7 linked regions of the Homo sapiens genome follow. The protein of the gene in region 6 interacts with the protein of the main gene of each other region in a pairwise test. Each region holds a gene or a part of one and is shown on either strand. Other genes may lie near its edges.

Region 1 (4,213 bases), on a different chromosome or scaffold from region 6:
TTTAGACATGAAGTTACAGCTGAGAGTTTGTGACCTAAACAAAGTTAGTTGGGTATAGGTCTTCTGACTCTGAGTCCAGTGCTCTGTCCAATATACCAATTCTACTAGTCAGGTCAGATAAGAAAAATGTACAGCTGGAACATTATTACCTAATTGCATATAAACAAAATTCCATTGAAACAAAATTCTGTAAACATCACTTACAAGTAGATGACTAAAAAGATAATTCTACTATAGGATCTATGCTAAGTATGCCAAACATTTCACAATCATAATTAATTTATACCATTTCAGATAGGAAAATTGAAGCTACGGTCAAATTCAGGTTAAAAAAAAAACCACTGAGTGCCTACTATGGATCAGGTACTGGTGACAGAATGAGAGGATAAATTACTAAAACAAAGTCAAAAATAAGTATTTTTAACCTTTGGGACAAAGCTTACTTAGACCATACTCCTTATTAAAGGAAAGTTAAATCTCAGTAGTCTCCTATACAATTATTCATTATTTTTGATGAAAAGAAGACTTCAAAGAGTTTTTCCAAAATATAATACAAAGATCTGAATTCAAAAAATATTTATTCCAACATTTCTTAAATTACTGGGGACACTATTATAAGTAAAATAAATTGACAGATGCTAACTCCAGCTTTATGAATTCTCAATGCTAAGATGACCTTATTTCTATAATACAGCATTTATGATATTCTAAAGTACTTTTAGAGATAGAACCAAGATACCAAGTTACTTGTTTGAAATGAAAACTGTCCCAGTCTATCCAGAGTTGATGTCTTCCCTAAGTTTGGGAGATCATTCGTAGAAAAAGGAGACACATACCTTTCCATAACAGCCAGGCACTCCTTTCTCCAGGTAAATCGACTCCCTCGTCGCAGTCGGAAAGTACCAGATGTGGCAGAGACTGGGGGAGGCGTTTGTCTCCATTCAGGGTCCTCTATTGGAATGGGGGCTGGTCTCATACTTAGTGTAGCGCCTGAAATAAACAAGACACTTTTAGCAAATATCTTGCAGTTTATTTAAAACAATATAACATCTACTTCCTATGGGACTAGGGAAGTATGGTCTTTGGCTTAGTGACAACTTAATCAATGTATCTTTCTCTGAAAAATTTCTTTTGAAATTCCTGCTTGATAGTTATACTCTTTTTGAACAATATACCTCAGATGTTCAGAATCTTTTACTAACCATTCAAATAAGTTATAAGCTTAAGGAATTTATGCAGGTAGGAGACAAACTTAAAATAACCCTAATTCTTGTAAACTCTTTTCTTTTTTAAAGAGTGAAATACAGCATGAAAGAAAATAAGATGATATTTGATATGCTTTTTGTCTACTAACTAAATCAGGTCTCCATAGGTCTACCTGTTGATGCTATACTAGATTCTGTTACCTCCTGAACATAATAAAATTTCAATGAAAAATATCTATAATTGAGACATTTTACTAATTCAGATTACTCTTTTCTCAAATAGCTTGAACTGCCAATGATGCATTTATTCATTCATTCACTATTTAACAAATCCCTTTCAAGTGGCTTGCTCTAGGCTAGAAGCTAAGAATAAAACCAGGAAAGCAACATTGTCTGTGACCTCCATGAACTTATTTCATAGACTTTCAATGTAACTTGGTATGCTTTCATAGAGTTCAGTCCCTGGCTACCCCACTCTTCTTTCACTCCTTACACTGTTAAATTCATCTTCCCAAAACATAATTATGATCATATCGGTCTTCTAATCAAAAACCTTCAAAAAATTCTCTCTGCCTGTAGTTTAATTCAAATGCTTAACACAGGTGTAGAAAGACATGTTAGAACATGTAGGTTTATGCAATATTAATAAATATGTTAATTCTATGTTAATGATATTAATATTTATTTCTTCCTAATAGAATTAATACTCTCTTTATTGTACCTTGCAAATAATACCATGGATAGCATTTCTACTTCAAGACTTACAGATCTATTGTAGATCCCCTTCTTAATAGCTACATCTTTAGATGTATTCTCTTACACAGATGTCCAAAATGTTAATCAATCCTGATTTTGCTTTTCAAACCTATTGTCCTGCAGTCTTTCCCATCTCAGTAAATAGATACCCACTCTTCAAACCACTCAGCTCAAAATTCTCAAATTAATCTTTCACTTCTCTAATTATCCCACCTATACATAACTAATTCATAGGCAAGTTCATTTTATCTTCAAAATATTTCCAGTATCAGATCAATTTTTATTCCTTGCACTGCTACTACTTTTAGAACACGTCAGCATCATCTTTCACAATCATGGTTTCCTGGGACAAGTTTCAAAGACGGCTCCTCACAGTAAGTCATACCTCTGGCTAATCATGCCCTTGAATCTGGGCCAGTCCTGTGACAGGTTGTTGAGCAAGAAAATCTAAACAATTCAAGGCTAGGTTATAAGATGCTTTGAAATTTCTGCCTAGGTCTCCTAAAATGCTGGCTCTGGGGGAAACCAGAGGCCATATAAGAAGTCTGACTAACCTGAGACTATGATGTTGTAAGGAAGCCCAGGATAGCCATGTGGAGAGGCTACATGGAGTGAAAGATGCTCTGACAGTCCCCAGGGTCTTCTGCCAACTCCACCCAGGTGCCAGCATTTGAGAGAAAATGCCATCTTGGACACTGTAGCCACAGCAAATGCCACATGGAGAAGTGCAGAAACCAGGTGATAGACAGAAACAAGGCCTCAGACATTCAGTCCCAGCACAGGAATGTGGACATCAACCTCCAAGGTCCCTAAGGATCCCTGCCTCCTGGTCTGCACACCTCCGTATAGTCCCTTCCCACACTGCACCATGATTAGGCTGTGCGACCAACAGCATGTGGCAGTGATGGTATGTCACTTCAAGGATCAGAATACAGAAGACACTATGACATCTGTCTTGGATGCTTTCTCTCTTATTCACTCAAGGGAAAACTAGCTGCCGTGTGAGGACACTCAGGCAGTGGATGGTGAGGCCCATGTTGTGAGGAACTGATGTCTCTGACCAACAGGCAGTGAGGACCTGGGACCTGTCCACATCCACATGAGTGAGTTTCCAAGTGGACCATCCAGTCCCAATGACTGCAGCCCAGGCTGACAGCTGGACAGCAACCTCTACAGAACTCTGAGCCAGAAACAACCAGCTAAGCCATTCCTGGATTCCTGATCTATGAAAACTATGAGATAATAAATGCTGGTTGTGTTAAGCTGCTAAATTGTGGATAATTTATTGTATAAGAATAGATAACTAATAAAAATTATCACAATCATCCTCAGTTGTTTATTTCCCTTTATCCCCCAATACACTATTATTAATTATTCAAATGTATAAATTTGGCAGCAAAAAATTTCCCTTTAATATAGAGACTTCACTACTAATAAGAATGAGCATCTTTTCCTGTTTATTGACCATTTATATCTTTTCTTGTGAATTTCTATCTGTTGTTCCTTTTTTAGGGGGTTATTCTTCTTATGGGTGCAGAGAAATCATAGCAATTGCTAGTCATACAGAATGCAATTTTTTTCTGGTCTGTCATTTGTTTTTTATAGTGTGCTTTGTGATCTTAATTTTAATACAGTCAAATTTGTCAGTCTTTTGTATTATGGCCAATGGGCTTGAATATCACTGAGTATCTTTATATCTTTCATTTTGTGTTTCAGCCTTTAATATGTATGTGATTTCTTATAGCATGTGATGGAAAGTAAATATTTAACTACTTAACATTTCTGCTTAAACAAGTAAGTTTGTCATCATATAATGCTTTAGAGATTTACAGCCCACCCTAAAACAGAGTTGGCAAATTATACCCACTGCCTATTTTTGTAAATAAAGTTTTATTGAAACATGCTCATGCTCATTCATTTACAGATTGTCTATGGCTATGAATGCACTGGAGCAGAAGAGCTGAGTAGCTATGATAGAGATCATATAACCTGCAAAACCTAAAATATTTACTGTCTGGCCCTTTATATGAAGTTTGCCAACCCCTGGTTTAAAAACATTTCTGCTCTACCCAACATGAAATTCTAAACTGAAACCCTTCTTTAAACAATTTAAAAGGGTTTCATTCTGCCAAAATAAACTGAGAATTCAGTCTGGGCCTAATTGAAAGTTAACTAAGTTTAGACATAAGCAGGAATTTGGGGGCTGGAGGGTTTCACAGTCTTATAGTGCTTTTCTGAAAACAAGTAGGGAT
Region 2 (4,875 bases), on a different chromosome or scaffold from region 6:
TCAAGGAGTTCCACAACTGAAACTGAAGCAGCAGGAATGAGTAAGAGGCTTCCTCTACTCCTTCAAATGGGGCTGGAAGGAGGTGGAGAGGCACTGTCTATAGAGATTTCGGTGTGTCAGAAGGGTCCTGTCTGTGCCATCCAGTACAGTAGCCACTGGCCATGTGTGACGACTGAGCCCTTGAGAGGTGGTCAGTGTGACTGAGGAACTAATTTAACATTCTACACAGTGGCCGGGCACAGTGGCTCATGCCTGTAATCCCAGCACTTTGGGAGGCCAAGGCAGGCAGATCACTTGAGGCCAGGAGTTTGAGACCAGCCTAGCCAACATTGCAAAACCCTGTCTCTACTAAAAATACAAAAATCAGCCTGGCGTGGTGGCAGATCCCTGTAATGCCAGCTACTTGGGAGGCTGAGGCACGAGAATCACTCCAGCCTGGGCGACAGAGAGAGACTCTGTCTCACAAAAATAAAAGTAAAATAAATGGGCTAGGTGCGGTGGCTCACGCCTGTAATCCCAGCACTTTGGGAGGCCAAGGCAGGTGAATCACGAGGTCAGGAGATCCAGACCACCCTGGCTAACACGGTGAAACCCTGTCTCTACTAAAAATACAAAAAAATTAGCCGGGCGTGGTGGTGGGCGCCTGTAGTCCCAGCTGCTGAGGAGGCTGAGGCAGGAGAATGGCGTGAATCCGGGAGGCGGAGCTTGCAGTGAGCCGAGATTGCGCCACTGCTCTCCAGCCTGGGCGACAGGGCGAGACTCCATCTCAAAAAAAAAGAAAAAAAAAAAAAAAGTAAAATAAATGTACATAGCTATAATTTAAAAAGCTACATGTGGCTGGCAGCTACTGTTTTGCATGGCACAGCTCTAGAACCTCTGGGGGCTCTAACCAAAGTGCCCCCCATGCCCCTGGTCTTTCTTCCCAGTGTTCTCCCACTTTGGGGGTAGTTTCAACTCCCTGCCTTGGAAGGTGCCGGACCTCTCTCCCACCAAAACCTATGTTTGGGGCTGGCGTAGTGGCTCATGCCTGTAATCCCAGCACTTCGGGAGGCCAAGATGGGAGGATCACTTGAGGCCAGGAGTTCAAGACCAGTCTGGGCAACATAACGAAACCCTGTCTCTACAAAAAATACACAAAATTAGCAGGTGTAGTGGTGCATGCCTGTAGTCCCAGCTACTCAATAGGCTGAGGTGGGAGGATTGCTTGAAGCCTGGAGGTAGAGGCTGCAATGAGCGGTGATCACACCACCATAGCCTGGGCAACAGAGCGAGACTATGTCTCAAAAAAAAAAACATGTTTGGCCTACCCTAGGACAGTGTTCACAAACCATCTGCACTAGCTAATAAAGGGCTATTGGGGTAGGATGAGGTTAATCAAAGGGTGGACACCCATTAGCCAAGGCTGAGAAATCTTTTGCAGTTGCTTTCCTCAAAAGGGCTCAGGGGCCAGGCAGCCACACTTGGTCACCCAATGACCAAGGAATCTGCAGCTGCAGACCCCAGCAGCAGGGCCCCATTTCCTCACCTGAGGGTCAAAATGCCCCCACTCACCCGCTGCCTGTGTTTCCTGGGCTTCCGCTGCAGCCCTTCCACAAGGACCACGGCCTCCTCACCGCTCTCCGGCTGCTGCTCGCGTACCCGAGCCTGGATCTCCCCCGGCAGCACAGTCAGGAACTGCTCCAGCACCAGCAGCTCCAGGATCTGCTCCTTGGTGCGCAGCTCCGGCCGCAGCCAGCGGCAGCACAGCTCCCAGAGGCGGCTCAGGGCCTCCCGGGGCCCAGCCACCTCCTGGTAGCAGAAGAGCCGGAAGAGCTGGCGGAAAGTCTCAGGGCTGGGGTCCTCCGTCTCCACGGAGGGCTCCTCTTCCAAGCAGAAGTCCTCCTCCACCTTCACAATCAGGATCTCTTCCTGTTCCAGGTCCTGCTCCAAGGTTGGCAGGGGCTGGAGGCCAGGGACAGTGGCCATTGCTTCCGGTGGGCCTTGTTCCTTTTCAGGCCTTAGAGTTGAACCTGTCTCTCTCTATACCTCTGGCCAGACACAGGAAGAGAGTTTTTTTCAGGGCCCTGTGGAGAGACGATAAAACCATCTGAAGGGCAGCCCTGGGGCTGGATAAGCCCTTTGGCCTGGGAAGCCCCTGCCCTGGTTCCAAGGCCAGCTCACCCCACCATGGAAAAGGAAAAGGAAGTGGATGAATGTCATCTTTGTTATTAACCCCCTGTTAATTCCCGGGTAATTTACTGAAGGGCTCTGGGCTTTGCTTCCTCACTGGGCAAACAGAGATGATAACAGGACCTACACACACAGGTTGCTGACAGAACTAAAAGGGATGGCTGGGGGCAGTAGCTGACGCCTGTAATCCCCGCACTTTGGGAGGCAGAGGAGGGCAGATCACGTGAGTTCAGGAGTTGACCACCTGGTCAACGTGGTGGAACCCTGTCTCTACAAAAAATACAAAAATTAGCCCGACATGGTGGTAGCACATCTGTAATCCCAGCAACTCGGGAGGCTGAGACAGGAGAATCGCTTGAACCCGGGAGATGGAGGTTGCAGTGAACTGAGATAGCGCCACTGCACTCCAGCCTGGGCGACAGAGAGAGACTCAAACAAAAACAATCTAAAAGGGATGTTTGCGGTCAGAGCTCGAGAATCGTTATTTTCCATGATTAGAGTGGGTCCTATATGGAAGGGGTTCCTTTGGAAATCTGATGAAAAGTAGGGCCTTTCTGCAGACTCTGCCTCAACTTGATCCCCGGTGTCCAGGTCTGGCGAACCCTGAAGCCCCTACGCGGCCCCGTCAGGCACCCCCGCGTGGGTGGTCACGACAGCCCCCCAATTCCAGGGTCCTGGGAGAGCTGGGACCCCCAGGCCGGGCTGCTTTCCCGTCTCATCCCTCAGGTGGAGGGTGAGCGGTACCCGAGGCCGCGGCACAGACCCGGGTGCTGGCGCGGGCCGCGAAATCGAAGCTTCGGCCGGGACCCGCGTCCCCGCGCCCCCCGCACTCACTGGAAGCGCTGCCGGCCGTGGGCAGTTCGGGGCAGGACCGGAGCGGCGGGTCTCGGCGGGAGTAGGACTGCGGGCCTCAGGCTTGGCAGCCAGGGACGCCAGAGCCGGGGCCGAAGACCCTAAACCAGGGGTGCAAACCAGGCCGTGCGGGTGGGCCCGCAGGCGGCATTGTGGGTAACGTAGCCGTGGCACCATTGGCTAAGCCGGCCGTTGGGGGCGTGGCAACACGGCCGAGTGGGCGGGTCCGCGACGTGCACTGTGGTTAATGTGGTCCTCAAAGGCACGCATTGTGGGTAACGTAGTCCAGCACCTCGGTGACCGCGCGAGCGTGCGGCGACTCTGCAGCCTCTGGGCTACTTTCCCAGTCACTGTTCCACACCCGCTCCGCTCTCCTCTGGCCGCCTCCTCCATCTTTAAAGCCAGCAAAGTCGTCCGGGCACGGTGGCTCACACCTGTAATCCTAGCACTTTGGGAGGCCGACGCGGGCGGATCACCTGAGGTCGGGAGTTCGAGACCAGCCTGACTAACGTGGAGAAACCTGGGCGTGGTGGTTCATGCCTGTAATCCTAGCTACTCAGGAGGCTAAGGCGCAGGTTGCAGTGAGCCGACATCCTGCCATTGTCCTCCAGCCTGGGCAACAAGAGCGAAACTCCATCTCAAAAAATAAATAAATAAATAATAAATAAATAAAATAAATAAAGGCAGAAGTTGTTCAAGATAAAACTGGAAGAGATGCCAAGTGCTTGCGCCCACCCTCCCCCAAGAGGGCCCCCAACAACGTCCAACCCCAAATATCCCTTGTCCTGCCTGCTTCTTTCTGACAACATAATAATGGGCATCAATCTTTGTTGTTGTTGTTAGAGATGAAGTCCCACCATGGTGCCTAGGCTGGTCTCAAACTCCTGGGCCCAAGCAATCTTCCCGCCTCAGCTTCCCAAAGTGTCAGGATTACAGGTGTGCCCAGCCAGGTATCAATTCTTGTATGTATGTATTTATTTATTTAGAGACAGGGTCTCACTCTGTCGCCCAGGCTAGAGTGCAGTGGCTCGACCTTGGCTCACAGCAACCTCCGCCGCCCGGTTTTAAGCAATTCTCCTACCTAACCTCCCGAATAGTTGGGATTACAGGCACGAACCACCAGGTCCGGCTAATTTTTGTATTTTTAGTAGAGATGGGGTTTCCCCATGTTGCCCAGGCTGGTCTCCAACGGCCTCAAGCAATCCACCCACGTCAGCCTCCCAAAGTGCTGAGATTACAGGAGTAAGCCACCGCTCCCGGTCGCATCAATTCTTGAGCATCAAGCAAGCAAAACACATTTGTACTTCGTTTCTTCCTCATTTAGTAATAGAGGTACTATAACTAGACCTACCGGTTCAACAAAACAAAACAAAACCCTGAAGCTCTGAGAGTTTTAAGTATTGAACCCCCCAGAGAAGGTCAAACAGGAAGTACAGAAATGGGATTGGAACCCAAATCTTTGATTCCAGAACTTCAGCTCCTAACTACCAGGTTAACGTAGTTTGCCCCTAATCCTAACTTGGGCATCCTAAGGCCCGTCTCCTATGCTGGATTCTCGCTGCTTTTCCTCTTTGGTTGAACATGATCCGGAGTTTCCCTCTGCCTGGGGTGCCCAGGAAAGAGTCCCAGCACCGAGTTCGGGTGAGCAGCAACGCAGCATACACAGCAGGCGTACACTCAACGTACGCCCCGCCCCGCACAAGCTCCGCCCCGCATGCGCGCCCCGCCTCGCATCCCGGATCTACCCCCGGAATCTCGCGCGTCTTTCCCAAAGCATCGGCTAGGACTCAGCCCGCCGGAAACAAATTTGGGGACGCCGGATTCAGGAAGCTGGCAGGACTACATTTCCCAGAG
Region 3 (4,213 bases), on a different chromosome or scaffold from region 6:
TCCATCCATCCCTGGAGATGAGGGCTATAGCTTCATGATGCCAAATATCTAATCAATCATCATGTTTTCGGATGTTTTCAAATAGCTAGTTTTCTGTAATACAAGCTTACACTAGCCAGTCTTTTTGTTATCTCAACAGTGCATATGGACACAGATTTTTCTGTTTGGAATATTTCTCAAGGCCAATGACTTATTATAGTCCCAACACCTGCAAATATTTGGCAGAGATTGTTCTGTCCTCTTCACATCCCCCACTCTTCCTATAACCCCGCTCCTATCTTTTGCCATTATACAGCTGTAAGTTTATACAATCTGTCCCTTCCTTGATGTCATTAATCATTTATCTATGACCACGAAATGTACAGTTGTGGGAGCATAAAGTTAAGTTTCAAATCACATTTCATGGGGAAAACTTAGATCCAAAACAAAGTGGCAGCCGGCTACAGTACAAAGGATAGTTACTCAATCTAGAGGCTAAGTCCCAGTTCTAGCTTTCCCATTACTAATCATTTCTTTGATTTTGACCAAGTCACTTCATCTATCAAGGTCTGTTTATACAACTTTAAAGTAGAGCGCTTCGACTAGACCAAGTCAAAGGCCTAATATCTTATGAGTCTAAGAACTGAAGTTAACAAGATTATTTCCCTCTGCAGCCTTGATATGAATGAGAGTATCAACTTGAGTGAAATAAAAAAATTGAATTTGCTACACATTTATACATATCAGGTATAAATAATAACCAAAAGAGGCACAAACCATAGTCATTGTGACTACTCTCAATATTATTTGCAACAAATTACAGGACAAATATATCCTATTCTGAGTACTGCTACTCTCACCAACATTATACTTTTTACAGAAGTTACAATGAATCATCCACTGCATGGCAGGAGGAAAATCTCCATTCCCTTCTTGCCCTCCTTTTATCCTATCTGGGTCTTTCTTCTAGCTTGGCTTATGTACTCAGGTTCTATTTGGAGTGGTAATTTTACTATCCGTTTAAACATTTTATTTTTCTAGAATATCTGCTAAGTAGCTCCCTTCTTAAGAGAAATTATACAACATAGCAGACAAGCAATGGGAATAAAACAATTCGCTGGATCATCAGTGTAAGGTAGGAGGACTTTTTATGGGCACTTAGACTTGTACATACATATTATATGACACAACAACTTTAGAAAACTCTGTCCATTGAATACACATAAATGACTAGGAACTTGTAAGGCAGGAACTATAAACAAATGCTTCAGTTTGTAGCCCATAATAGTGAGCACTGTCACAAAATTTGATACTGGATAAAATATTTATTGCCTTCAGTTTAAATTGTTCATTCAGATATTTAATTATCCCTCCCAATTTCGTGGTATACTGAAGTTTCTTCAGTTCTTTGTTTTGTTTTGTTTTGTTTTGTTTTTAAAGGCAGGCTTAGAATTAGCCCTATGTTAAAGGCTTAATGGCAATTTGTAATGGCCAATGCCAAACTTTTGTTTCTTTAGTGTATTGAGTACACAAACACAAACATACAATAATGTCCTCCACAAAAATCTCTCACCTACCTAGATACACTCAGCCACCTCCACCCACACCTACACAGAGACACACCCTGCCTTCCCATTGCCATATACCTACATATGCAAATCGACACATATGCTAATTGTAGTACACGTACACAAGTACTCACATACTTAAAAGAAGAGGTGGAAAGATCATAGCAAAGATATATAATAAGCAATATGTCACTGACAGAAGATAGAGGGTGTGTTTCCCTGGATGAACTACTGGTGTTGCAGGCCATGAGCTGACTCCCCAAAAGTTAGCCAGAAGTGTGTGACTGCAAGAATGTTTATGCAACAGATGAGATAGGCTCCAGGAAGAGCTTGCAGGAGAGCAGGTTATTCCTCATGAGAACAACTTAAAGTTAACTCACTTGTCATATAGGAAAAGTCACCTATTTTATTAGAGAACTTGCTAACTGCATTTATGCGACAAAGTTGTATAGGGGATGCTCCCCAGATCCCTTACCTTGAGTTTCTCAAATCGATCATTCAGGGATGCGACCTGATGGTCTCGGTGACGACCCACCAGTTTGCATAAGGCACAGATCAATTGGTCATCAGATACACAGTACATGTTCACTTTCTCATTCTCATGGTCCAGGCAGGTGATCCCTCGAAGATGTGTGTCTGGCACTGGTTCCACCAGGCGGTGGCTGGTGAAAGGTTTCTTGTTGGGGTGCGTGGCCCGCAGGCAACGGTCACAGTAGGAGACCTCACAGGTGATGCATGTTTTTACTGCATCCCTTGGCGGGTCCTGCTCACAGAATTGGCAAGCAATTCGCTCGCTAGACATGGCAGTGGTGGGCCTGTAAGTCCTTTCCCGGCGGCTCTCACTAGGGGAATTGGGCCCACTGACTGAAGCCTTCTGGAAGCGATCAATAATGTTCTGCAGAGTCACATTCCTCTTGAGGCCATCCAGGCCCCGGTGGTTCAGCGAGATAACATACCTGCAGGTAGGACACTGGAAAGCAGTAATGGGTTCAATGGATTCACCAGAGCTGCAGCTTGATACCAAAATGCGATGGGCACAGCTGAAGCAGAGGCTGTGAGCACAAGGGAGCAGAAGGGGGTCTTCAAACAACTCTAGGCAGATTGGACAGGTCAATTCAGACTCCAGTGTTTCCATCTTTAGTGAAAATAGTCCTCCTGAGGCATTAAGAACCACGGAGGCTGGGCTTTCACCTGCAAGGAATACAAAGCAAGAGTCATTAGGCATTTCCAAAGGAAAATGGATATAACACAATTATACACTAACCAATGGGCGCGTTTACGTGCTGGATTCCCCAGAGATGCTTAAGCAATAGAAAAGCAATTTGGGAACTAATCAGGAAGACTTTCTTCCCCTTCAAACCTTGTTTTAGACAAATGCCTATGTTTATTTTCATGCACAAATAGATAAAACCAAATGGCCACCTCTGAATCCTGATAGACTGATTAACATTACCATTCCAGCTCACAATATTTGCATGGATCATTCTCTCACATATTCTCCACTGACATCTCTTTTCCTAGACTAAGATAAGGCTGAGACCCTGCAAAATTCCCAATCTCTATTCTCCAATATTGTTCTCTATTTCACTTCAAGGTAAACTGTAGGGCTGCTTCTATGTGACATCCAGTGTAAGGAAAACAATGCCATATTTTAAAGTAACTCTCTACTTCCTGAAATGATTCCATTCTGAAAGCCTGCATAAAAAAGAGAGAGCTTTAGAAAAATGTAGCCCTTGGTGCAGGATAATAAGTTTTTCCTCAGAGTGTGAACTTGAATTACTTCTTATTATCACACATGGAAATTTCCGTTCCATTCTATTCCTAGTAAACTGAGTTACTTGAGATAAAAGATGATAGTTTTCACTTTCATCTTCTTCCCTCACCTTCAGAAACCCCTTCAGTTCATCAAGCTGAATGGGGAATGATTTCAAACTTTTCAACCTACTCAGCAATAGTTGCTGATCAATAATAAAGTCATATTGCCTTGTGGCTTCAGTTTGGTTTCATTACTAAACACCTGCTGAACTAGCACAAGCCAGCTATGAAGCTCACCTCCCATGTGTCTTTTCATACTTTCTAAAACATAACAGGATGCAAATCAATATCTAGATAGAAATTAGCAAAGTTCCAGAAATTTTAAGATCTGGTAACCTTCAATTTAGTGAGCATCAGTGAGTAAAAGAGGTCACCCGGCCGGGCACAGTGGCTCACGCCTGTAATCCCAGCACTTTGGGAGGCCAAGGTGGGTGGATCACGAGGTTAGGAGGTCCAGACCTTCCTGGCCAATATGGTGAAACCCTGTCTCTACTAAAAATGCAAAAATTAGCTGGGCGTGGTGGCGCTTGCCTGTGGTCCCAGCTACTCGGGAGGCTGAACCAGAAGTATCGCTTGAACCTGGGAGGTGGAGGTTGCAGTAAGCCGAGATCATGCCACTGCACTCTTGCCTGGGTGACAGAGTGAGACTGCCAAAAAAAAAAAAAACAAACAAAACAAACAAAAAAAGCCACCCAACTGACAAGAAACCAACCTCTTGGTAACTCTATCTATTTTTCCACAGGCATTTCTGTGCTGAACACACAGGTACCTAATTCTTAATTGCCTAGAGTCTTCCATTAATTAAAATACACACACATAAATATTCTAAGTTGTCTTTAACTAAGGAAAAA
Region 4 (4,213 bases), on a different chromosome or scaffold from region 6:
CAGGCACAACTGCCTGCAGCTGCCCAAGCTGCAGCTGTGACCCAGGCACCCCTGTGCTCTTGGAAGCTGGGAGCAGGCAGGAGCGCTCCTGCCCTCCCAGGCATCACTGTAGCTACCCTGCTGTGGCTGCAGATCCAGGCATCTCTGCACTCTCAGGGGTCCAGGAAGGCCCCTTTCCCCCCACGGGCTCAAGAAGCACCTGCTCCTGCTGCCTGGCTTCTCCCTGCTGTCAGCACCTGCTCCAATCTCAAAGCAAGGCTGGGGCTGAGCCTGGGCTCTGCTGTAACCTGGTTGGGTGTGCACACGCTTGAGGCAGTGCTGATATGCCCACCTCCTACCCCATTGGCCTGCTCCAGACTTTGGGTGCCAATAAGCATGGAAGGGAGGCTGAGGAAGGGGTGCTCAGGACAGCTCGGTGCCAGCCTGCAGGTGCCCCCTCAGCATGAACAGCCTGGGTGCCATAAACAGAAGCAGGGAGCAAAGAAGCTCCTGGGCAGAAAAGGGGAGGTCCCCGGTGAAGCCCCACCTTCAAGCCAGAGAAGCCCTGAAGCCTGGGGGCCAGGTTGCCAGTCATGTGGACTGGAGTGGGAACTTGTGGTGCTTTTCTGGGTCTGTCCATGACTGCCCATGGACCAACTGCACGCATTTCCTCTCCTCTGAGGCACATAAAAGCCCCGGACTTAGCCAGACTTGAAGAGACAATGGGACGACCAGTGGCAGAGAGGAGCTACCCTCTCTGCTGAGAGCACAAGAGATGACGGGGAAAACCTGCCTGCAGAGAGGAACTGCCCCCTGCAGTTCAACTCTGAGCTGTTCTATCACTCAATAAAGCTCCTCTTCATCTTGCTCACCCTCTACTTCTCTGTGTACCTCATTCTTCCTGAACGCAGGACAAGAACTTGAGACCTGCCAAATGGTGGGGCTAAGAGAGCTGTAACACAAACAGGCTGAAACACGCCTCTTGCTTGCCACACAGCAGGTGAAGAGAAGAGCTGCGGCCCTTTGGGGAGCTCTGTCCTGGGAGCCCCCTGAGCCAGGGCAGTGACTCCCTAGTCTCCAAGCTTCTGGGCAACATCATGTTCCTGGTGCCAACCGTGGAAGCTGCTTGTGATGTGCCTGGTCCAGCCACAGCCTTGCAAGGAGGTGGCACCTGGAGCTGCCTGGCCTGCAGCAGCAGCCGGCGTGCCTGCCTATGCGCAGTGGCCAGACCCCACGCTCACTCACACATCCCTCACCACTCTGTGCCTGGCTCGCCCTTGGCAGGCATGGGATCTAGGCCGGTAGCATGAGCTGAGTGCAGCCTGCTAGGTTCCAAGTGGGTGGAACGAGCCTAATGGGCCAGAGCAAAACTCAGGCCAAGGCGCCACTGGCCACAGAGGTTTCCGGCTGGTGAAATGACACCCCAAGGATCCCATAGCAATAATACCAGGAAGCAGTGCTTGCAAAAAGGAATGACACCAGAAAGAGTGAACCCGAACTGATGGGAAAAACAGGGCAAATGAAGAGGGTGGGGTCTGGGCACCTTAAGGTAGGGTCAACATGACAGACCCACCCACTCTGAGTCCCCAACCATGGGTCATGCCGCATTTTGGGGCAAATGATGCTGTTTAAAATAACGCAAATTCTGTGGATGTGATTTTGGGGGAAATTACTTGTAAAGACCACTGGAACTATATACAGTACTTTACTAGATTGGTTAGGGTAATTCCAAGTATGGATGATCAGAAACCAGAGAGAAACAAGATCATTCTTCACAGATCTAGGAGGTATACATAGCTACTTTATGAAATCTTAATCCTAGAGATGTTTTATAAACTCTCCTTTCTGAATATGAAATCTTCCCCTCTTCCCCAAATCAAAACAGACTCTCTTGCCAGGTCTCCATTACATTGGCACTCACCTCTCCAATGATCCCTCCATGCCTCGCACACTCATGTCTCTGTTCTTTGGTATGTCTCCTGGCTGCAGTTCACTGGGCGCAGGCTCAGTGCTGATCACAACCCTATGCACTTCTTTCAGATGGCCAAAATAGACTCGGATGTGGCCAAACACTTTTGCACAAAACTCACAACACATGAGTTTCTTCAGACGGTTCTCACCATGATGAAGTTTCATGTGTGTGCTCAGGCTGCCAGGACGTACATAGGACTTGCGACAAATCCGACAACTGTAAGGGCGTCTGTTGGTGTGTGTATTCATGTGGTCTCGAAGGTGCTGTTTGAACTGGAAGTGGTGGTTGCAGACGTGACATCTGTGCCAAGGCTTCTTAATGCCAGAGAATCCATTTCTGAACACGGAGCTGGGCTTAGGGGAAGAGCTGTTGTCTTGCTTACAGCCAAGATATTTAGGAGTGAGTGAATTATTTAACAAAACATCCTGTCCTAGGCCCCCAAGCATCTGGGACTGTAGTGTAGTTGGAGAAGCCAGGGAGGCCAAAGTGGGTATGACCATGATAGGTTTGGGCATAATGCTACGGTATTTTTTCAGGGTCCCCAGCTTTTGGTCTCTGAATTCTTGGGGATCATTTTTTACTCTTTCTTTACCATCTCTACACTTATTAATGATATATTTCCTCCTTTTTCCCTGAAATGCCAAAATTTCATCTGGTACCTTCCGTTTTCTTCCTTTTCTCTTTGCTGCTCCACTGTTCAGTTTTGTTTTGTGGTTAAGATCAAGTTTGGTGGGTGGACAAAAGGCACTTTCACAGGCACTCTGCTGTGACACTTGTGGAACAGGTAGCCTGCTTGCCACCTTGGTGGCTGCATTAAAGCCTTCTGTGGTGGAGGGTATCTTATCACAGTCGGCCTTAGGTCCTGGTAAAGAAAAACCTGCAATGTTAGCATCTGATTTGATTTTGTAAACCTCCATTGTCTTCATTCTTGAGTAGGGTGGGATTGGCAGTTTCCCTTTGGGGACTGAAGAGATCAACTGAACTGCATTGCCAAGAATGGTTGGTGATAAATTGGTCATGGTTTTTGCAAGATCAACTTGTTCTTTAAATTTTTCACTGGCAACAGCAGAAGGTTTACTAGATGTTATCTTGCTTACAAAGTGTGCTTTCCCTGAAAGAGCTGTGAGGTCCTGCTTGGCAGGCTCCTCTGGTGTGGATGATGCTGGGGTAGCAGGAGGGTTCAGACTGCCATGGGTGTTGGTCACTGGTGGTCTCAAGTCCCCATGGTCACTTCCATTGGTCAGCGCAGCTGTGCTAATGCTGGCTGGGGCTTGCTCTAGTGATGGTACTTCCTCAAATGGACTGGGTTTGTACAGGAGTTCAGGGTGGTGAGGTGGGGAAGGGGACATCTGAGGACACATTTGGGTTTGGGCAGGAGCTTTGCTACAGCCACTCTTAGGAAAGATCAGGATGGGTTTCTTTCTTGATGCTTTGCTATTTCTAGGGGGTTGATATCTAGGAATAGGAAGTTTCAGGTTTTCAGGTAGGGACATTCTGGGTTTCTGAATTGGCTGAGCTGAGGCAACATGTGGCAGAGCAACAAGAGAAAATGTCCCCTCCTGGCCAGCAACCTGCATCAGGGCATAGTTCTGGGTGGACATCCCCAGCAGCTTGGAGTTGATGGAGGGTCCCAGATTCACCTGATCAGAGCGTGATGGTGAATGACATGGCAGCATTCTGGACGTTAGGACTTTGGGCACAATTTTTGGTGCAATGGTCCTAAACTGACTCTTATTCTGCAAACCTTTCCTACTCTGTATTGTTCCAGAAGGGATGTTTGATTCACCTGCAATGACAATAAAATATAAAGAGTTACTGTATGTAACTGTTCTGTTAGTGATACTTCAAACAACAAGCATCTTATTTACTCTGCCCAGAACAGATTCCTTGACCTACCTCCAAGCCTTCTGGGCAAAATCTTGTGTCCCTCAAGACCAGCTTGAAGATCAATTCCTGCCTACCTTCCCCAAGGATTTCTATACTTATCTATGGTTCCTTAGCTCCTATTATGTTATTTACCATTTTCCATAATAATTTATGTGTTTATGTGTATCTCTACTAGTCAACACTGCTTGACAGCGAAAATTCCGTCCTTCTCATCCATGTATTCTGCAAGTCCATCCTCTCCATTTAACCTATCCCCACTCATCTTCACATGATGTCTGGTATGTTCTGCTATGTAGTTTATTATTTTATATACATGTTCTGCTTTCCCTATTAAGCTTCAGCTTTGTGAGGGTACAGCCTATATTCATCTCATCT
Region 5 (4,742 bases), on a different chromosome or scaffold from region 6:
GCTCCAGGTCATCCACCTCACTGGCTGTGTCCCTGTCCAGAGTAGGGGAGGACGGCACGGTGGCCCACATCGACCCCTCAGAGGAGGAGTTTGACTGGGAGCTGGTTTTCTTGGACAGAGGTTGGCTGGCAGGGACTGTCTCTGAAACTTGGGGGACACTGGCTGACTCCCCAAGGGCAACTGGGCTCTCCTCGAGGGAGGCTTCCCTTTTCTCCTGTATGTCTCTGTTGGGCTGTGACACTGCGTAGTCTTCAGGCCGTGCGTGGAACTTGGGCCTTCTGCTACCTTTAACTTGGGACTCCGGCATTTGACTGGTCTCCCAGGGCTGTTCAGGAGGGTGACCAGGCCGACACTGGAGCGCCTGTATCTCCTTCCAGGAAGGATGGAGGTCACACAGGGCCTTCTGCGGGTCGCGTTGCAGCTGCTGCTGCCTGTCCTGCCCGCGCGCCGCCTGCTGCAGCAGCTGTTCGGCGATCAAGCCGGAGGCATCGCGCTCTTGACACGCGCGGCCCAGGTGGCCGCGCACTTCGCTATTCTCAGCCTCCACCTTCCGCACCCAGTCGGTCTTGGCCTGCAGCCGCCCATTCTCCTCCGCCAGCCAGGCGTTTTTGAGCAGCGCCGCCTGCAGCTGTGTCTCGGCCTCCTCGCCACGTCGCCGCGCCGGGGCCGCCTGCGCGCCCAGCTCCTGGCACTCGCGCCGCCGCTGGTCCAGCTCGCGCTCCAGCGCCAGCATCTGCCGTCGCACCTCCTCGCAGGTTGCGCTCTGGCCGCCCGCCTCGGGCCAAGCGCCACCGTTGCCCTGCTGAAGCATCAACTGCCTCTGCAGGCGCAGCACTTCCCGCTGGGACTCGCGCTGCAGGCGGTCTAAGTCTCTGACGTTGAGCCACTGGGTGCAGGGGCCGCCCCTTCCAGTATGCAGGTCGCTGCAGGGACCCGAGGCGACACGCGCCTGCAGGAGGTGGCACTCCTGCCGCAGCTCTTCGATCTGCTTGTCCTTGGCCAGCGGCGCGCTCGCCTGCTCCGACAGGTCCCGAGCGCGCTGGCGGGCAAAGACTTGGCACAGCTCCAGGCCGGCGCAACTCTCGCCGGGTATAGGCGCGCTCACGGCCCGGAGGTTGGTCTCCTGCAGCTTGCGGGCGCGGTCAGCTAGGCGCCGCGCGAGCCCGGTCAGCTCCGCGCGCTTTACCTTGAGCCGCTTCACCTTCTCGTCTGCCTGGTAGGGGCAGCCTGCACGCCGCAGCTGCTTGTTCTCCGCTTGCAGGGTATAACAGCGGCGCGCCAGCACCCACAACGCCTTGGCCAGCAGCCAGTTCAGCTTTATCAGCTCGTGGTGGCCCAGGCCCGGGGGTGAGGGAGTCAGGACTTCGCAGGGCTGGCTCTCAGAGCCTTCTCCTCCCCGCGGGTTGCTGAGTTTCCTGTGGGCTGACGGTGGTGGTGGCGGCGGGAGTGGCGATGGTGGCGGCGAGAGCCTCCGGGAGCCAGGGGTGGAGGTGTCTGGTGAGGAGGGCCGCTCCTCGGATTTGGAGGCCTTGGGGAGGCTCCGGGTGCTGTCAAGCGAGCGGGAACACGCAGGTGCGAAGCAATCAAGGGAGCTGGCGTGCGTGGAGAGCAGGCCGTCTGGGGAGCTGGAGCACGCAGAGGACACCAGGCCTAGCGAGCGGGAGCGCACACCGACTTCAGCACTCAGGCTGTCTAGAGATCCGAGTTGGCAGGCGGGTTTGGGGGCGTGGCAAGAGCCGCTGGAGGTCTGGGGCAGCGGTTCTTCCAAGGAATGCACAGCTTGGGGGTCCGGTGATCCCGACAAAGCCGGGTGCCCGCGGAAGTGCGCCAGGATGTACTTGAGGAAGAGCTGGCGCTCCACCTCCAGCGCCGCCTGCAGATAGCGGATGCGCGCCGCCTGCTCGCCGTCAGTCTGCCAGCGAAGCTGCGCCAACACTTCCTGCAGGCGACAGCGGCACTGCGCCGCGGAAACCTCGGACGCCCCCGGGCGGCTACAGTGGCCGCGGTTCACCAGCTCCTCGGCCAGCTGGCGCTGCAGCTCCCGGGCTTGGCGCACCACGCCATCGCGCTCCCGGTGCAGCAGCTGCTGCAGCTGCCGCTGCTCGGCCTCCTTCCAGCGCAGCAGCTGCCGGATCTCGGCCTCGCGTTCCCGCTGCATCTCCTCTTGCAGCTGCCGCAACTCCCGGCTGCGCTGTGCCTCCCACTTGGAGCGCAGACGGTCAGCCAGCTGTCGCCGCTCCCGCTCGGCCTCCTCACGCAGCTGGCGCTCCCGGGCAGCGAAGCGCCGCCGTTCCGCCCGCCAGCCTGCCCGCTCCGCCTCCAGCTCCGCCCGTAGCTTCTCCAGCTCCCGCCTCTGGTTCTCCAGCACTGCCGCCGCCGGGCTGGAGCAGCCCGGCTTCTTGGGCGACGCGCCCAAGGGGCTGGGCGAGTCCTTGGCCATTGCGGCCGCGGCCCGGCTGGTCTCCAGACTTCGCCTGGCAGGCCTCAGCTCGCCAACGGCCGCCGCCGACCGCCCGGCGCGCCCCTTCCGGCGCCCCCTGGGGGTCTCCGCGTGCCCCTTCCGCCTCTTGGCATGTTCCCCCGCCTCCTGCCGCGGATGTCTGGCCCAGGCGCCTCTCCACCTGGCAAGGCCAGGGCTGGACTCCCACACCCCTGCTCAAACTGGCCCATGTCCCTTCCAGGATGCACGGGGGCTTTTCCGGTCCCTACACTTTTCCTGCTTCTAGCACCAAGTCCCTTGTGACCCTCCCCAGGCACCCTCCCAGGCACTGTGCAGTCCCAAGCAGGCCGCGGTGCCCCGAGGGAAGTCTGGGCTGCTGCTCCTGTACTTGGAGAAAGGGGCAGGGTGTGTGTGTTAAGGCCACCCATGGGGTGTGGGCATACCTGGTCGTGGGTTCAGGTGGTGTATTTGGGTCAGGTGGCTGGAAAATGCAGCAGGATAGGCCTCAACTTGGCTAGACCTGGACTCCCCAGGACCCTTCAGCCCCCTAACAGCCCTGATCACCCAACTGGTCATCCACCTTTTGAGGAAAGGATGTGCCTGATACACATTTGTGTTACTGCGCAGAGTCGGCTCAGAGGAGGTGTAAGCGAAAAGACCCTCCCCAGCAAGGTGGCATAGGGACCCAGGGCCAGATAGGCATGAGGGGCACTGCCCAAACTGGCCATCTGGCCTGTCTACCTCCCACATCCAGGTACCACCTGGTGACAAACACTGGAGCCCCAGTGTCTGGGCTACTCATTGGCATCTTAGGTAGAGGCCTCAGGATGGGCCAGGAGTGAGGGTGAGGCTTCAGCAGAAATGTTGGAGGCATCCTGAGCTGCAGAAGAAACACACACACACACACACACACACACACACACACACACACAGCTGCAGAAGAAACATACACACACACACATACTGAGCTGAAGGAATACACACATACACTGAGCTGCAGAAGAAACATACATACACACACTGAACTGAAGAAATACACACACACACACACACACACACACACACTGCCTCTCTGACTGGTGGCCACCTGTGTGGCTTGGGAGCTAAGAAGCCCTGCTTCAGTCTGGCTCCTCTTTGCCCTTCCTGTCTGCTCCTGGTGCCAAGTGGCTTTTGGGAGACATGGATGGACACCTGATACCTGGCAGTCTGCATCGAGACATTGATTTTTTTTTTTTTGAGATGGGGCCCCACTCTGTCGCCAGGCTGGAGTGCAGTGGCGCAATCTTGGCTCATTGCAACCTCTACCTTCCACGTTCAAGAGATTCTCCTGCCTCAGCCTCCCAAGTAGCTGGGATTACAGGCTTGAGCCACCATGCCCAGCTAATTTTTTGTACTTTTTAGTAGAGACAGGGTTTCAGTATGTTGGCCAGGATGGTCTTGAACTTCTGACCTCAAGTGATCCACCCGCCTCGGCCTCTTAAAGTGCTGCGATTACAGGCATGAGCCACTGTGCCCGACAAGACCTTGATATTGAAGTCACATCAGAGGCCCCTTTGCTTCTTGGTCTGTCGTGTCTCCCTGTCCCCAGGAAGCACCTGGGACCTCTCACAACTGCTGTGTTCACTCAGCTTATGGCCCTCCTTTACAACACTCAAGTTTTTCAAATCAGTTTCCCCGGAACCCACAGAACATGCCTTTAGGCAGTGTCAAGTAACAAGAACATCGGGAATTATGGCTCCAGATGTTCTTTTTTTTTTTTTTTTTTTTGAGATGGAGTCTCGCTCTGTCGCCCAGGCTGGAATGCAGTGGCGCAATCTCTGCTCACTGCAAGCTCCGCCTCCTGAGTTCACGCCATTCTCCTGCCTCAGCCTCTCAAGTAGCTGGGACTACAGGTGCCCGCCACCATGCCTGGCTAATTTTTTTTGTATTTTCAGTAGAGATGGTCTCGATCTCCTGACCTTGTGATCTGCCCGCCTCAGCCTCACAAAGTGCTGGGATTACAGGCGTGAGTCACGGCGCATGGCCCTTTATTTTATTTTATTTTATTTTATTTTATTTTATTTTATTTTATTTGTGAGACAGAGTTTTGCTCTGTCACCAGGCTGGCATGCAGTGGCACGATTTCGGCTCACTGCAACCTCCAACTCCCTCGTTCAAGTGATTCTCCTGCCTCAGCCTCCTGAGTAGCTGGGATTACAGGCATGCGCCACCACGCCCAGCTAATTTTTGTATTTTTAATAGAGACAGGGTTTCATCATGTTGGCCAGGATGATTTCGATCTCCTGACCTTGTGATCCGCCCA
Region 6 (4,213 bases):
AGGCCTTCTATCTATCTGCTCAGCCCTGCTTACATTCTCCACTGTCATTCACCCCACACAGAAAAGTATCTGTCCTTTCTGTTACTATCTCTAACAGAGAGAGATGGATGACTAGGAGAGCCTTCCCACTTCTATCTGAGAAGTGACTTCCTTTCCTTCTACCTCTATCGAATTTCTCTATAAGAAATATATCATCTGGAAATACATAAGAGACCCAGGAGGATAAGACCAACGACATTCATACTTCTATTAATACATTGTTCTTCCATTTCATCCCTTCAACAGTTCTGTGATGTAAGTATTGTTCGTACCACTTTACCAACAAAGAATATAAAGCTCAAAAAGATCACGTAACTAGCATAAATTCATATGCCTAGCTAGCCATGAGACAGTTCAGAATTCTTGGCAATTCAAATATAGCTGACCCTCAAACAACATGGATTGAACTGTGCAGATCCACTTACATGCAGATTCTTTTCAGTAACAGTTACACTGAGTGTGCCTGCCCTTCCTGCCTCCCCTTCCGCCTCCCCTATCTCTTCTACCTCTGCCACCCCTGAGAAGGCAAGACCAACCCCTCCTCTTCCTCTTCAGCCTACTCAACATGAAGATAAGAATAAAGATCTTTAGGATGATCTACTTCCACTTAATAAATAGTAAATACATTTTCTTTCCTCATGATTTTCTTAATAACATTTTCTTTTCTCTAGTTTATTGTAATACAGTATATAATGCCTATAACATACAAAATATGTGTTAATCAATTGTTTATGTTATCAGTAAAGCCTCCAGTTAACAATTAATAGTTAAGTTAGGGGAAGTCAAAAGGTATACAGGAATTTTCAACTGACTGAGGGAGGGTAATCAGTTGTCCAGGGGTCAAGTGCATTTCTCAGTAGGGTGTGGTGGCTCACGCCTATGATCCTAACACTCTGGAAGGCCAAGGCGAAAGGATCACTTGGGCCCAGGAGTTTGAGAGCAGCCTGGGCAACATGACAAGACCCTATCTCTACAAAAAAAAAAAAAAAAAAAAAATTTTATTTAATAAATTAGCCGGGTATGGTGGCACACACCTGCAGTCCCAGCTACTGGGGAGCTAAGGCAGGAGGACTGCATGAACCCAGGAGTTCAGGCTTCAGTAAGCCAGGATTGCACCACTGCACTCCAGCTTGGGTGACAGAGTGAGACTCTGCCTCACTAAAAAAAAAAAAAAAAAAAAAAAAAAAAAGAAAGTATACTTCTCAATCAAAGGTCCAAGATTGTTAAGTTCAAATGGTATCTCTGCAAGGACCTCCCTTAACTTCTATTTTATCTAATTGAGATTATACATCAATGTGTTTTTAAATACATAAATAAATGCATGAATAAGTAAATCCAATAAAACACATTAGCTTAGATAGTAAAAATGAAATAAGTATTTACAGACCCAAGGGCCAAATCTGCCCACAGTAGTCTGTTTGGGGTTTTTTTTTTTGGCTTTGGCTTTTTTTTGTTTCTGAGACAGGGTCTTACTCTGTCACCCAGGCTGGAGTGCAGTGGGATGATCATGGCTTACTGGAGCATCAACCTCCCAGACTCAAGTGATCCTCCTGTCTCAGGCTCCAGTGGCTCCCTGCCCCAGAGATAGCTAGGACTACAGGTGCAAGCCACTATGCCCGGCTAGCTTTTGTATTTTTTGTAGAGATGAGGTTTCGCCACATTGCCCAGGCTGGTCTCAAACTCCTGCCTCAAGTGAGCTGCCCACCTCAGCCTCCCAAAGTGCTGGGATTACAGGCTTAAGCCATCGTGCCTTGCCCATAGTCTGTTTTTACAAATAAAGTTTGTTGGAACACAGCAACAGCCATTTCTTGATTTATCATTTGCCATGGCTTTCTTGCTATCAAGGTAAGATTGAATAGCTGCTATAGAGATTGTGTTGCTCACAAAGCCTAAATACTCACTCTCTGGTCTGTTATAGAGTTTGCTGAGCCCTGTTTTAGCTTAACCTACTGAAAAATTTTTCTACACTATTAATAAAATCTTCCTAGTCACAAATATATGTAGATTATAAAGTCACAAAAAAGGAGCAAGAATACAAATGTGGACGTGAAGTATGTTAGCACTGGTACAAAAGAAACAATCAGACCAACTATAAGAAGAGAAAATACAATATAATGGGCAATAGGCCAGACTTCGCAGAGATACTAATGTTGGTTTGATCCTAGGTTGATCTCTTAGGTGCCATGTATCATCCTTAGAAACGTTATTTGACCCTTCTGGCCTCAAGGTTCTCATCTGTAAAACAGAGAAATATAATACTTATCTCATAATGAAAAGATTATACTAGATCATGTTCATCAGCTAATTAACTCATTGCCCAGTGTGTAACGGGTAAGATGAGCTGAATTCAGGGTTAAAAGTGACCCAGAGATTTCTAGAGATCGGGTAACGGATGAACTAATAAAGTCATTCACTGACACAGAGAACTCAGAATGGATTTTTGTTGTTTGTTCAGATCATCTTTTGTAGAGGGAAACAGATTTGGACAATGGAAGTTCAGTATGAATGAGATAGCCACATTACAATTTCTGTAAGGCAATTCGAGTTATATTATAGTTTGGAAATGAGGTAAGACATTAATCCTGGAAATGTAGACCTTGGAGGTAATTTGCATAGACGTAAGAGTTAATATCACAAGCGTATATAAGAATCCATGGGAGGCTAAGAGCAAGATATAAGTGGGCAAAAGATAGAAGAATACTTGGAACTTATCATATTTAAGGGAAGGGGATGTAAGGAGTAAGACAGAGGGGACGTAAAGGGTGCCACAGCACAGAAGTCAGGGGAAAAGACATCTAGAAGGAAACGGGCCTGTTTCCTGGACCCAAATACCACTCAATGTGCAATGTTTAGCATGCCGTATTATTACTACCTGCTGTTGTCTGTATTCCTACTAGCCTGTGTGGTTCTTGAGAGTAGAACACACAAACACATATATATACACATACTCTTTCTCTCCTCTCTCTCTTATATTTATCATCGTATGCCCATAATCTAGCACTACATGTGATGCTGGGTGGAAGACGCGGGAAGAAGAGAAATAGGAAGAAAAAGAAAAGAATGGAAGGAAATTGGTCAGCAAAAACAAAACAAAGAAGGCTGCCTCTTTGGAAGGGGCAGTAAAGAACTATTTAAAAACTCAATAGAGTGAAGAGACAACTCACAGAATGGGAAAAAGTATTTACAAGCCATGTATCTGGGAAAAAGCTAATGTCCAAAATACATAAGGAACTCACGCAACTCAACAGCAAGAAAGCAAATAACTTAAAAATGGGCAAAGGGGCTGGGCGAGGTGGCTCATGCCTGTAATCCCAGCACTTTGGGAGGCCGAGGTGGGTGGAGCATGAGGGCAGGAGAACGAGACCATCCTGGCTAACACGGTGAAACCCCATCTCTACTAAAAATATAAAAAATTAGCCAAGCATGGTGGCGGGCACCTGTAGTCCCAGCTACTTGGGAGGCTGAGGCAGGAGAATGGTGTGAACCCAGGAGGCAGAGCTTGCAGTGGGCCGAGATCGCGCCACTGCACTCCAGCCTGGGCGACAGAGTGAGACTCCATGTCAAAAAAAAAAAAAAAAAGAAAGAAAGAAAAATGGGCAAAGGATCTGAATAAAGATTTCTGAAAAGAAGACATATAAATGGTCAATAGGTATGTGAAAAAAAATCCTCAAAATCACTAGTCATCAGAGAAATGCAAATCAAAAGCACAATGAGATAGATACACTTTACACCTGTTAGAACCGCTATTACCAAAAAGAAAAGGTAAGTGTTGGTGAGGATGTGGAGAAAAAGGAACCACTGTACACTGTTGGTGGGAATTTAGAGGAGTATAACCATTATGGGAAATAGTATGGAGGTTCAAAAAAATTTAAAAATAGAACTATTAACATATGATCCAGCAATCCCACTTCTGTGTATATAACACAGGAAATGAAATCAGCATGTCAAAGAGACATCTGCACCCCCTTGTTCACTGCAGCATTATTCACAATGGCCAAGATATGGGATCCACCTAAATGTCCATCAACAGATGAGTGTATAAAGAAAATGTGATGTATGTATACAATAGAATATTATTCAGCCTTTAGACAGAAGTAAATCCTGTGATTTGTGACAAGGATGAACTAGGAGAACTCTCGCTCTCTCTCTGAATCTTACTTTCCCTATATTTCTC
Region 7 (4,812 bases), about 91 Mb from region 6:
CTGCATGTCCTCATGAATATGAAGAAGCTAAAAAAGTCAATCTCATAGAAGGAGAGAGCAGAATAGTGCTTACTGGAAGCAGAAAAGGGTAGGGGGAAGAAAGAGATAGCCAAAGGTAGGTTAAGAAATACAAAATACAGCTAGATAGGAGGAATAAGTTTGAGTGTTCTATAGCACTATAGGGTAACTATAATTAGCAATTTATTGTATATTTTCAAATAGCTAGAAGAGTGGATTGTAAATGTTCCCAACACAAAGAAATGAAAAATAAGGTAATAAATATGCTATTTACCCTGATTTGATAATTTGTCATATACATGTATACAAATATCACATTGTACCTGATGGATATGTACAGTTACATGTCTATAGTAATACTAATAAAAGCAAAAAAGAAAAAATTTAAGAAGAAAAAAATCTTAGAAGTCATGTGACTTATGACATGTTACTTAAATTGTTTTATGAATAATTGTAAGAGATAGTTAAACAAAATCAAGCTGGAGAACAAGCCCAAGAAGCATATTTCTCCACTCCACTTCCACACCACCATCTTTAGAGCATTATAATTGCAATGATATTGGAAAAATACAAAAAGGTATATTTTTAAATGGGAGGAGACAACCTGAATATATCAAAATAATCTACTCAGGATCCATTTGGTGAGTATTCCTTTGGCAAAATGAATATGCAAAGGAATCGCTCAAAGCTTTGCTAAAAATCAAGTGAGATAAATTTAAGGTCCATTGGTGCTGGAAGTATAACCGAAGAATTTGAGAAGACAAAAAATAAAAATGACTACTGTTATTATTATTCTAATATAAAATTCTATAACACAGCTGTTTTAATTATATCTTTAAGGTAGGGAGGCAAACTCACTTGCCCTCATTCATAGAAAACTCAGTATGAATGACACTTCAAAACCTTGACTCTGTTCTCCACATCACACTATTGTTTTCAAAGAGACTCTCTAGCTTTATTTATTTAATGAATGTAAACCTTGCTGTTGACATATCCTAGTATGTTCTAATCAGGGTAATTAGCCCATGTGAAAGTTTAGACATATGGTGAGGATAAGGTAAACCCAAACCCATAAGAATGTTTTACTAGTTCATATAAAATACTAGGGTATGTCATCAATAAGCTGATTATTTATTTTTATTTTAAATAGAGTCTCCCTATATTGCCCCAGCTGGTCTTGAACCCTGGGCTCAAGTGATCCCCACGACCTTGGCCTCCCAAAGCTAGGATTACAGAAGTGAGCCACCGTGCCTGGCCTCAAGCTGATTATTTTGCAGGGATTTGAGGCATGTTGGGCAAAAAGGAGTCCTCCTTCTCCTCCTCTTCCTCTACCTCTTTCTTCTCTTCCTCTCCTTCAATGAGCTTTCAGGGTACCAAAAAGTAACCAAGAAAAATTATGGTAATTGGAGAGGAAAAAGATAATTACAAGAACAAGGAAATGCAAGCTGGTTTAACTAATATCTGATTCAGAGCTTCCCATGCGAACCCAAGTATTCAGCTTTCATTTCTAAAGAGATCATGTTCCCTCGATTGAAAAAATAAAAACAGACAAATTAAATATCTGTCTCTAAATATTCTCTAAATCTCTAAATTTTCTAAACTCTTATTTGTAATATTATAGTAGAAAAGTACCCAGTCTTATGTAAGAAACACAGATTAATTCAGCTTTACTCAAAATGTTGGTAAGTGTAATAAAAATAAGAGGTAAATTTGTCAGTGAGGTGGTGTTATATTAAAACACAAATCTACTACTCTTGCTTAGGTAGAACAGTCCCAGATTTGGCAACTAATAATAATGTGAGAATAAATAGAACAAGTGTAGAAAACAGACACTAGAGTTTACCTTCCCCTTAAAGCAATTTGGATTATGGCTTAAAGCATATATCATAACACATATGTTAAGAAATATCTTGTATGATACATATGTTTGCAATACCTATGTTAAATTTTAATCCATATGCTTTGCTAATAAAAATGCTAGTATTTACACATGATGGTATTGTGGATATAAAATGAGGGCTAAAATGGCTCAAGGATTTCCTTACATTTTATGTATGAGAGCTATGCATTTTGTTAATAATTCTTTTTAGTTTCCAATTTTCTAAAGTCTGAAATGACAGCTGAGGAGCTGCATTTGGTTTTCAAATGAATGATAGGTACCAAAGAGGATATGACTAAAATAGTGAGAGAGAAAGCATTAACACATATGGGATGTATGCTTTTTGCCTGAATAACACTACCTCTGTTTCAAGAAGTAGCACTTTAGATTGATATAGTCTATTATATATTTCTGTGGGCTGGAAACACAGATATTTTAATTTAACCTTAGAAAATTAAAGATTATGAATTTTTGTATGCCCACTTCTGGAAAGTAGGCAGATTTTTCTTGAAAATAGCAGGAATCTCATTAACTCCTTTTACTTAAAACCTGTAAGTGACTTCAAAATGTGCTCTTGAAATATAAATCTAGTCATAAAATATGCTCAGTGATAATGTTATTCATTCAAATAAATTAAGCCAAATAAAATCTCAAGAGCCCTCCTCTTCTTCCTCTTTTTACAACAATAAAGCTATACCCCACATTAAGACCATTAGAAAAACTCAAGAGGCAATTCCAAGGAGTTATCTGGCCCCTATGTTACCTCCACATGCAAGTTATAAGAATGAGAAATCTGAAAAGCTCAGCATATAAAATTTGATAACCTTTAGCTAAAATGGCTAAGAAACTTCAAAAGGCATACACTTTTGCCAAGCAAAAGTTTTCTCTTAAGTAGTTACTGGAAAGTTTATAAAAATTTCTCATCCTTAAAAAAAAATTAGAGAAGTCAAAATACCACAAAACAAAACAAAGGAAATATTTGGGGGAAAGAACTCACTTTGTCTTAAAGCCGCTTCTTCCTGTGATTTAAACAGTACGAAAGGAGAATATATGTTGATTATTTTTCCTCCAATCCACATGCATGTCAACTCCAAAAGGAACAGAAAGTCACCAGCACCATCTGAAGATCCCTTCCAACTGCATGCAGCTTTTTCAACTTTGCAGGAGAAAACAGAAGGGTCCCTGCATTTCCTCCAAGTCTTATACCGTGTACATGACTCCTACTGGGCTGAAAAAGCACTATTTGTCAATTTTTACTTAAAACTATGAGTAACAAATTCTCTGCAGGACATCCTTAAAGGGAAATTCTGCCAGGATTAGCATTCGAAGTATCTGGCTAAGCTCCAAAAAGTTTAAAATACACAATGTTCACACAGACGCATACACACTTGAGAAATTTCCACTAACTAGGCTAAATTAAGGGCATATTTATAAAAATAATACTCTAAAAGGATGATGTATTTTCTGTTTCCTCAATCTGTTTTTGGCTTTGTTTTCTTTGTTTTCTGGTGGTGATCAGAACCCTTCTTTTAGGTTAGAAATGTCTGAACCGCTGAGCTTTTCTTTTGGACATTGTCTCTTAGAATCTCCTTTTGAGGCCATCTGGAAAGGGATGAGGTCCCATGCTCTTACCTGCAAAATTATTGGTACCTTAAGAGATGGCCCCCTGGATTGTGGCCTCTATCTCTCCCTTCTTGGGAAATTGGGGAACTCTGAGACATAAGTTTGAGTAGAATACTCAAGGTAGTTCCCTGCTCTCTGGACTTGCAGTGTGGACTCAGCCTTCCCCGCTCTGCCTGCTTCCTGGTGAGCTGGCCACAATTGTGACATCACATCCATGGCTCTATGACTTCATAAAGCATAAACTCATTGAGTCTTTTGAAATCTTCAAAACACAAAAAGTGGACAGAGATGTCAAGAGTTGGATCTGAAGAAATTTTTGGATATTAAACCAATCCATAATAGGTATCCTCAGTGGGGCACACTGATTCATAAGGCAAGTGACATTTTCTCTTAGAATCTCCATTTGAGGCCATTTCTTCAGTTTGGAAGGCAGGATGAGAGAAGAAATTCTGCCTTAATCCCAGACCAAACTTAAACTGTCCTTGTTCTAACTGCTAAAGGAATGAAATGTTAATATCTTCTAAGGTCAAACTCGGGTATATACAGTCAAAGAACTTGAGCTAGAGAAATGCAGAGCCAGTTAACTGTATGTTTTGTTATTCACTTGACTTTAATGATTAAGACATTATGAAAATGAACATATGGCGACTAACAACAATAAATTTGGATTCAGCAAAAGGACACAAGTATATTTCATTAGTAATAGATTTTAATCCTTAGGACACCATTGCTAAACAGGTACTGCCTGTATTTTCCTTGTTTTATGGGCAAGGAAAGCAGTCCTTGAGATGTAAAAGTGCCTGGGACCATCACCCTCTTTATTTGCTCCCATGCTTCCTGAGAGGGTAATCTACATCCACCAAGTCATTCCAAACCTACTACATTCTGAGCCTTCTTCTCCCTCCCAACTTATTGCAATCTGTCTTTCACTTGAACCGCTCCAAAAAAGCTTCATTAAGATCATATACAACCTTGATTAGCAACCCAAAGAGTATGGTCTTCAGTCTTACCGAAAAATTCTCATCTCTGGCCATGTCTATTTCTTTCTGAAATTATCTTCCCTTGGTTTTGCTATGTTACACCCTTCTGATTTTCTGTTTGCTCTTAGCACCCTCACTTTCTCTCTATTCACCTCACTCTTCCCTAGAGCTTTATCTTCTGTTCAGTATGCTTCTCTGCAGACTTTCCATCACGTTCTTCATCAAAACAATGAACAATTTTATACAACATGACTCCCAAATGTGTACTTTCATCTGATACCACTCTTCAAGGTTCCAGACCTGTATCCCGCT

The links.
Region 1: the proteins of FARS2 (region 6) and HMBOX1 interact in binary tests that used the Homo sapiens proteins (3 or more experiments, as listed by UniProt).
Region 2: the proteins of FARS2 (region 6) and ZNF500 interact in binary tests that used the Homo sapiens proteins (3 or more experiments, as listed by UniProt).
Region 3: the proteins of FARS2 (region 6) and MID2 interact in binary tests that used the Homo sapiens proteins (3 or more experiments, as listed by UniProt).
Region 4: the proteins of FARS2 (region 6) and ZNF438 interact in binary tests that used the Homo sapiens proteins (3 or more experiments, as listed by UniProt).
Region 5: the proteins of FARS2 (region 6) and RIMBP3 interact in binary tests that used the Homo sapiens proteins (3 or more experiments, as listed by UniProt).
Region 7: the proteins of FARS2 (region 6) and FHL5 interact in binary tests that used the Homo sapiens proteins (3 or more experiments, as listed by UniProt).

Annotation. Positions count from the first base shown.
Region 1 is NC_000008.11:29,015,537-29,019,749, reverse strand, and holds part of HMBOX1 (homeobox-containing protein 1), read right to left. Parts: intron 991-4,213; coding exon 837-990; exon of another isoform or gene 1-836. UniProt on the Homo sapiens protein: Binds directly to 5'-TTAGGG-3' repeats in telomeric DNA. Associates with the telomerase complex at sites of active telomere processing and positively regulates telomere elongation.
Region 2 is NC_000016.10:4,764,014-4,768,888, forward strand, and holds the start of ZNF500 (zinc finger protein 500), read right to left. Parts: upstream 3,150-4,875; 5' UTR 3,004-3,149; intron 2,064-3,003; 5' UTR 1,966-2,063; coding exon 1,552-1,965; intron 277-1,551; exon of another isoform or gene 1-276.
Region 3 is NC_000023.11:107,839,195-107,843,407, reverse strand, and holds part of MID2 (probable E3 ubiquitin-protein ligase MID2), read right to left. Parts: intron 2,739-4,213; coding exon 2,023-2,738; intron 1-2,022. UniProt on the Homo sapiens protein: E3 ubiquitin ligase that plays a role in microtubule stabilization. Mediates the 'Lys-48'-linked polyubiquitination of LRRK2 to drive its localization to microtubules and its proteasomal degradation in neurons.
Region 4 is NC_000010.11:30,846,631-30,850,843, forward strand, and holds part of ZNF438 (zinc finger protein 438), read right to left. Parts: intron 3,738-4,213; coding exon 1,901-3,737; intron 1-1,900. UniProt on the Homo sapiens protein: Isoform 1 acts as a transcriptional repressor.
Region 5 is NC_000022.11:18,608,995-18,613,736, forward strand, and holds the start of RIMBP3 (RIMS-binding protein 3A), read right to left. Parts: upstream 2,926-4,742; 5' UTR 2,441-2,925; coding exon 1-2,440. UniProt on the Homo sapiens protein: Probable component of the manchette, a microtubule-based structure which plays a key role in sperm head morphogenesis during late stages of sperm development.
Region 6 is NC_000006.12:5,362,333-5,366,545, reverse strand, and holds part of FARS2 (phenylalanine--tRNA ligase, mitochondrial), read right to left. Parts: intron 1-4,213. UniProt on the Homo sapiens protein: Is responsible for the charging of tRNA(Phe) with phenylalanine in mitochondrial translation.
Region 7 is NC_000006.12:96,561,438-96,566,249, reverse strand, and holds the start of FHL5 (four and a half LIM domains protein 5), read right to left. Parts: upstream 3,123-4,812; 5' UTR 2,895-3,122; intron 1-2,894. UniProt on the Homo sapiens protein: May be involved in the regulation of spermatogenesis. Stimulates CREM transcriptional activity in a phosphorylation-independent manner.